Linked DNA regions of Homo sapiens: region 2 is linked to region 1. The links come from fine-mapping of genetic effects on gene expression. A gene starts in region 1. The other region holds a variant in brackets. All regions are shown on one strand. Distances are from middle to middle.

Region 1 (2,790 bases):
GAAGCAGAGAGACAGACAGGGAGAAACAGATGGAGATAGCAATAGAAACAGGAAGACAGAGAGAGATAGAGATACAGAGAGAGCGGCAGTGAGAGACAGAGACAGGAGAGAGGTAGACAGGAGAGAAGGAGCGAGTCCTGGGCGCCTTCCTGAGTGCGGGCCCTGGATGGGCACCAGGCTGAGTCAGAGGCGCCCTAGGGCCGGAGGAGCAGGAGACCTGGGCAGCGGGGTGGGCGAGTGCCGGGAGGAGGTAAGAGGTCGCGGGGGAGGAAGACGCTCCCCCCGGCCTTGCGGGGCAGGTCGCGCAGGGCAGGTCGTGCGGGGCAGGTGGGGGGTGCCAAGGAAGTCCGGGCGTGGCCACACCGCAGAGAAAGCCATGGGAGGCACGTCCTGAGAGCTGGGAATTGGAACTGAGGGGCTTGGCAGTGGTTGGGTCTGAGGACCTGGGGGGCTTCCTCATGGCCGCACAGCGGGAGGGAGGTCAGCGGCCTCCACGCGGCTGCGGGCCTGGCCACAGGGCGGCTCTCCTGCTCCCTGCCCTGGCCTCTGGGGCACTGTGGGAGCTGGGGATTGGACTTGACCCTGAGCATCAGCTCCTGGCCTATGGTGACCAAAGGACCACGTGCCAGAGCAGGTGAAGGGGCCTCATGGGTCCACTCCCTGCCCGCCACCACGACTCTCTGGAGGAGGGGATCGCCTGCATTGGACCTCCTGGGTGCTTCACCACAGACTCCGGTGAAGTCCACGGATGCCACCCCAGACAGCTGTTAGGATCCTTACTATTGCGGTGTTGGGGAACCTTGCAGGGCTGTCCCCTTCTCTACATCCAGAGATTGGCATGGTGAGCAGCCACAGAATGCCTTCGGACAGTGCCTTGGCCACTACAGTATCACATGCTTGCCTTTGGAAAGGCACTTGGCATTTGAGTCTGTTGTCTGCGCACTGACATTTCTTTCTCACTAGGGCTGACCTGTGGGATTGTCGAATCAGGTTAAGCATCGATTCATGGTTGTTCCAATAGGAGCCACAGGAGCCACTCCTCCCTCTCAGCCCAGCCTGCCTGGCCCTTCTCTGCCTCTGCACAGCCGGCATCCTGGCCTGTGCCTGTGCGCGCGTGCGCATGTGCCTGTGTGCACGTGCACGGGCCTGGGGGTATTGCTGTTCTTCCAGCTTCCTCCTACCTGAGCAGCGTGGAGGTCGGCAATGGGCTTGGCCTGGCGCAGTGGGGACGGCTCCAGGTCCGAGCGGTCCCGGCTGTGGAAGAGACTCTCGGGCTGGGTGGGCCAGGGAGCAGCCAGCCAGCAGAGCAGCAGTGTCGGACGGAAGATGGAGGCGGCGAGCATTGGCCTGGTCTGAACCCTTGCCCTCCCTGCCTGGCTTCTTCCCCGTCCCCGTCACCTCTCCTTAAGGAGCAGGACCTAGGGTGGCTTTTATAAGCTACGCAGGAGGGAGCACCCAGGTTTCCAAGCATTTCTCACCCAGCCCTGAAGTGTGCCCGCTAGGAGGCCACGTGGCAGGCCCTGGGCGTGCTGCCTTTGAAGACCCCAGGCTCACCTTTCTTGTTGGTGTGAGAACTCCTTCTCTCAGCCTCCAGAGTTTGCCATGTCCTCCGATAATTACATCCTCCAGTTGCCAGTGCCTGTGGGTTCCATTTCTATGGAGATATACTGCGGGCAAGTTTGCCGCTAAATGAGCTGTGGAATTAACAGAGGCACGAGACTGCGCCCCTAACAACATGCCTCTCAGAGCTGAGCCTGAGTTTAAAAACCCTGACCGTTAGTTTGCTTACAGTTTGGGTCACTTTTTTTTTCTTGGTGAACTGGGGTTTGGAGATTTTTAGTTTGTTTCTCACACATTTTTTGTGTGGCTTTTCTTCTTTTTGTTTATCTTTATATAAAGGAGATCTTCTGAGCAGATAGTATAAATTGTAAAAGTACTGAGAATGAAGGAGACATTCTGTGATTCCGGTGGTGACATTTCAGTGAACATTCTTGCAGATACATATGCACAGATGCCTAGAGAAGTATTTGTGTGTGTCTCTCATTTTACATGAACTCTATTCTCTGTTCTTACAAGCCAGCACAACGTTACAGGCACTTTTCTGTTTCTGAATGTAAGTATTTATCGTTCTAGTTAATGACTGCACAGCGTCCCATTCTGTGGGTAAAGATTTTTATAGAAGGATAAACTAGAATCACCTCAGCCCACTACTTTTTCCCCTCATGGAGAAGCCTCAAGTTTCTTTGGGATCCTGAAGACAGAGCCCCTGAACTGGGCTTTTATCTGAGCAGATGTCCTCCTGAGAGTGCAGACTGACTGGGTCACAGCCGTCCATGGGAATATTGAGAATCATAGAAATACGGAGAGGCCAGGTGCAGTGGCTCAGACCCATAATCCCAGCGTTGCGGGAGGCTGAGGCAGGAGGACTGAGGCCAGGAGTTTGAGACAAGCAAGGGCAACAAAATGAGACCTCATTTCTATCAAAAAATGTTTAAAAATTAGCTTGGCATCGGCCGGGCGTGGTGGCTCACACCTATAATCCCAACACTTTAGGAAACCAAGGTGGGTGGATTGCTTGAATCCAGGAGTTCAAGACCAGCAAGAGTTCAAGACCAGCCTGGGCAACATGATGAAACCCCATCTCTACTAAAAATACAAAAATTAGCCAGGTGTAGTGGCATGCGTGCCAATAGTTCCAGCTACTTAGGGGAGCTGAGGCTGGAGGATCACTTGTGTCCAGGAGGTTAAGACTGAAATGAGCCGAGATCACGTCACTGCACAACAACTTGG
Region 2 (2,790 bases), 630 kb before region 1:
TACCCACTATTCAAGGCCTTCCTTAAATGCTGAGGAAGACATCACTGCAGACACAATTCCAACTTTAATTGTGAAATCTCCTGGCTTTTGTCACTTGAAGCCTCATTCTTAATCCCAGGCTTAGCTGAGAAATGAGAAGGATGTGTGCAAGTGGAGGAAAAAGAATCCTCAACCCTGAGTGAAAAGCATGCGCCGTGGAGGAGCGAGGAGAATGGACACTCTGAAGATGCTAGGGCTGGGAAACAGGGTGCTGGGGAAAACTGGCTCGCTGGCCTCAGAGCTGCGGCAGGTCCACCACTGCGCCGTGTTCTGCTGGAGGAACCTGGATGCCAGCTCAGTGGATCTTCTGCCCAGCGCAAAGGATCCCTGAAACCTGGAACAGGACAGGGGACACACCATAGACACGACATGGGCTCTGGAAGACCACTCACAAGGCCCGGCTCACAGGAAATGACCATTCATGGGAACCTGCACGCCGCAGTCATTCTCATGCTTAGATGCCACTTTCCAAGCAACAGCCTCTGAGAAAGCAGCTTCCCCCTTCTCAGTGTCCCAGTGAGGCACCACAGAAAGGAGAGGGCTGGCCCAGGGATGATCCTGGCCCCACCACCCTCTTCCAGGTGGAGTGAAGTGGAAGGAGACCTGTTTAAAAACTGCAGGGGGCACTTAAAATGGGCTGACTCTATTCATACCCAAGCTGGAGGTGAGCCAGGACACCGGGACTCACATGACTGATTTGTCAAGAGACTCCTCCCAGCACTTCCTTGAGTCATCCACAAGACAGAGCAGAATCCAAAGGCCAAGATGGAGGCGGGGGGCACCCAACATCCACACCACCCCCGGCCCCACCAGAGCCCCAGCGGAAACCAAGGATTTCCAGAATACACATGTGCTCACAAGTGTACACACGTGTTCACAAAAAGAAGAGAAGGGTTGTAGAATAGGAAGGTAATCTTATAAAGAAAAGCCTGTTTTTCAGGAAAACCTTCACCTTGTGGGGACCTTACCCTCTATGGAAAGCCAAGGTCAACCTGGGAGCTCCCGCATCACCTGCTCCGGGTACTCTTCCGGTGGAGCGGGGCTGGTCTCTGGATTTGAAGACACACCCAACTCTGTGCCATTCCCTGTCAGTTCTCTGATAGCCTCTTTGAAAAGAAGGCTGTTCCCTTTGTTCAGGAGTATTAATTCAAATTCCTTTCTAAGGCCCACACCACACGGATGCAGGGGAGCGACCCAAAGGAAGTTCACCCGGCAAAACCTAGTTTCTCCCTGGTTTTCACAGGAGTGGTGCAAACAGACTATCACAGTTAGGAGAAATCCTAAGCATCTTCCCTGTCTCTTGACCCCCAACTCCCCAACGTGGAACCCACAAACCAGATCCTATTTCAGGTGTGCACATGGCTCCAGTTGAATGCCAGAGGCAACCAGAGTTGGGGAGGGGTGCATCCCATGGACCCAAGCCCTCCCTCGAGGGAGATG[G/C]GGGGTGGAGGGCAACTGAGATCACACTATCCCAGACCACAAACATGGTCTTACCTATTGATGAAATGATACCTGGCCACTAAATCCAATTTTACCACATGAAACCCTAAGCACTGTGAAAGCTACACACATAACCCCAGGAGAGTGTGCCCATGCATTCTTGGAGTGTGGGGTGGTGCTGCATCAGAGACACACAGATGAGGGCAAGGGAGAAACAGCTTGGGAGGAAAGAAGGAGTCTAGTCTTGGTTAGTGTGGCAAAGCCATCCCCAGACATTCCCGTGTCCCAGTCAAAGGCCACAAGAAGCCTCGGTCAGCCACAGAGAAGCCAGAGCCAGGCGAAGTTGGTAGTAACTAGCCAGACTTAATTACCTAAGCTCCCTGGCCCTGACTCTTCATTGGTAAAACAGTGACTAACTATCACCTGTGCCTCTGCGAGGACAGCGCTGTGCTTGGCCAGGGCTGGAGAGCCGATCTCAAGGCAGGTGTCTGGCCTTTTCCCGGACATAGTGAGTCTGTGATCCAGAGTCTGACCCACGTATTCAACGGGGCCTGCCTCACTTCCTGCTCTAGGATGTTTTACATTCACTGCACTTTTGGAGTGAATATTCACAACAGCCTGGCTCCTGTTTGGAAGCCTGAGGCAGGCCCCGTTGAATACGTGGGTCAGACTCTGGATCACAGACTCACTATGTCCAGGAAAAGGCCAGACACCTGCCTTGAGATCGGCTCTCCAGCCCTGGCCAAGCACAGCGCTGTCCTCGCAGAGGCACAGGTGATAGTTAGTCACTGTTTTACCAATGAAGAGTCAGGGCAACGCAACAACACACAATGGCCCAGCGAGCTAGTGCCAGACACTAAGTAAGTGCTCAAGAAATGGTTGCTCTCTAGTTACTTGAATAACAGGTAGAGCGCACTTGAATGGCTGCATAAGTTTCTGGAGCACCAAATTAAGTCTGCAAAACATAGAGGCGAACACAGAAATTCCTCCATGGAGAAGACGAGGGCAAGACGAAACGGGCCAGATCGCACCGTCCTACCACTCTGCGCTCGGACAACCTCTAGTCACATGCCTCGCCAGGCTTCAGGTGTTGGGAGCCGCCGGGGTGAACAGCAGAGAACGCAGCAGAGGCGCGCAAATGTCACTCGTCCTCGACGTGGAGTTCTGCTGAAGGTCTCAGTGGCCCTCGCTGTTTCCCACAGCAACTGCCACTGCGCTATTTGTACTACAAGGAAAACACCCAGATTCGAAGGTTATCCAAGAACCGTGGTCACCCCCAAACACTGCCCAGGAGACGAGATCCCAAGCCGG

Which allele goes with the higher level. Positions count from the first base shown, and alleles are read on the strand shown. Sizes are in standard deviations (SD) of each study's normalised expression.
With allele C in place of G in region 2, the expression in tibial artery of the gene that starts at base 1,343 in region 1 is higher (small effect, 0.27 SD a copy in GTEx).

Evidence for each region. PIP is the estimated chance that this variant, and not a neighbour inherited with it, causes the effect.
Region 2: its variant is the best candidate, but not a certain one, in a credible set for the expression of MMP21 in tibial artery (GTEx, PIP 0.51).

The regions. Positions count from the first base shown.
Region 1 is chr10:125,774,479-125,777,268 of GRCh38, forward strand. MMP21 (matrix metallopeptidase 21) reads right to left here and starts at 1,343. Exons shown (of 7, transcript NM_147191.1): 1 at 1,182-1,343. The coding sequence starts at 1,343.
Region 2 is chr10:125,148,744-125,151,533 of GRCh38, forward strand. The region is part of intron 1 of CTBP2 (C-terminal binding protein 2); the gene reads right to left. Among named protein-coding and RNA genes, the nearest start is that of CTBP2, 10 kb to the right of the region's middle. RefSeq lists enhancers at 557-851, 2,736-2,790. The variant G/C (reference allele first, on the strand shown) is at 1,480.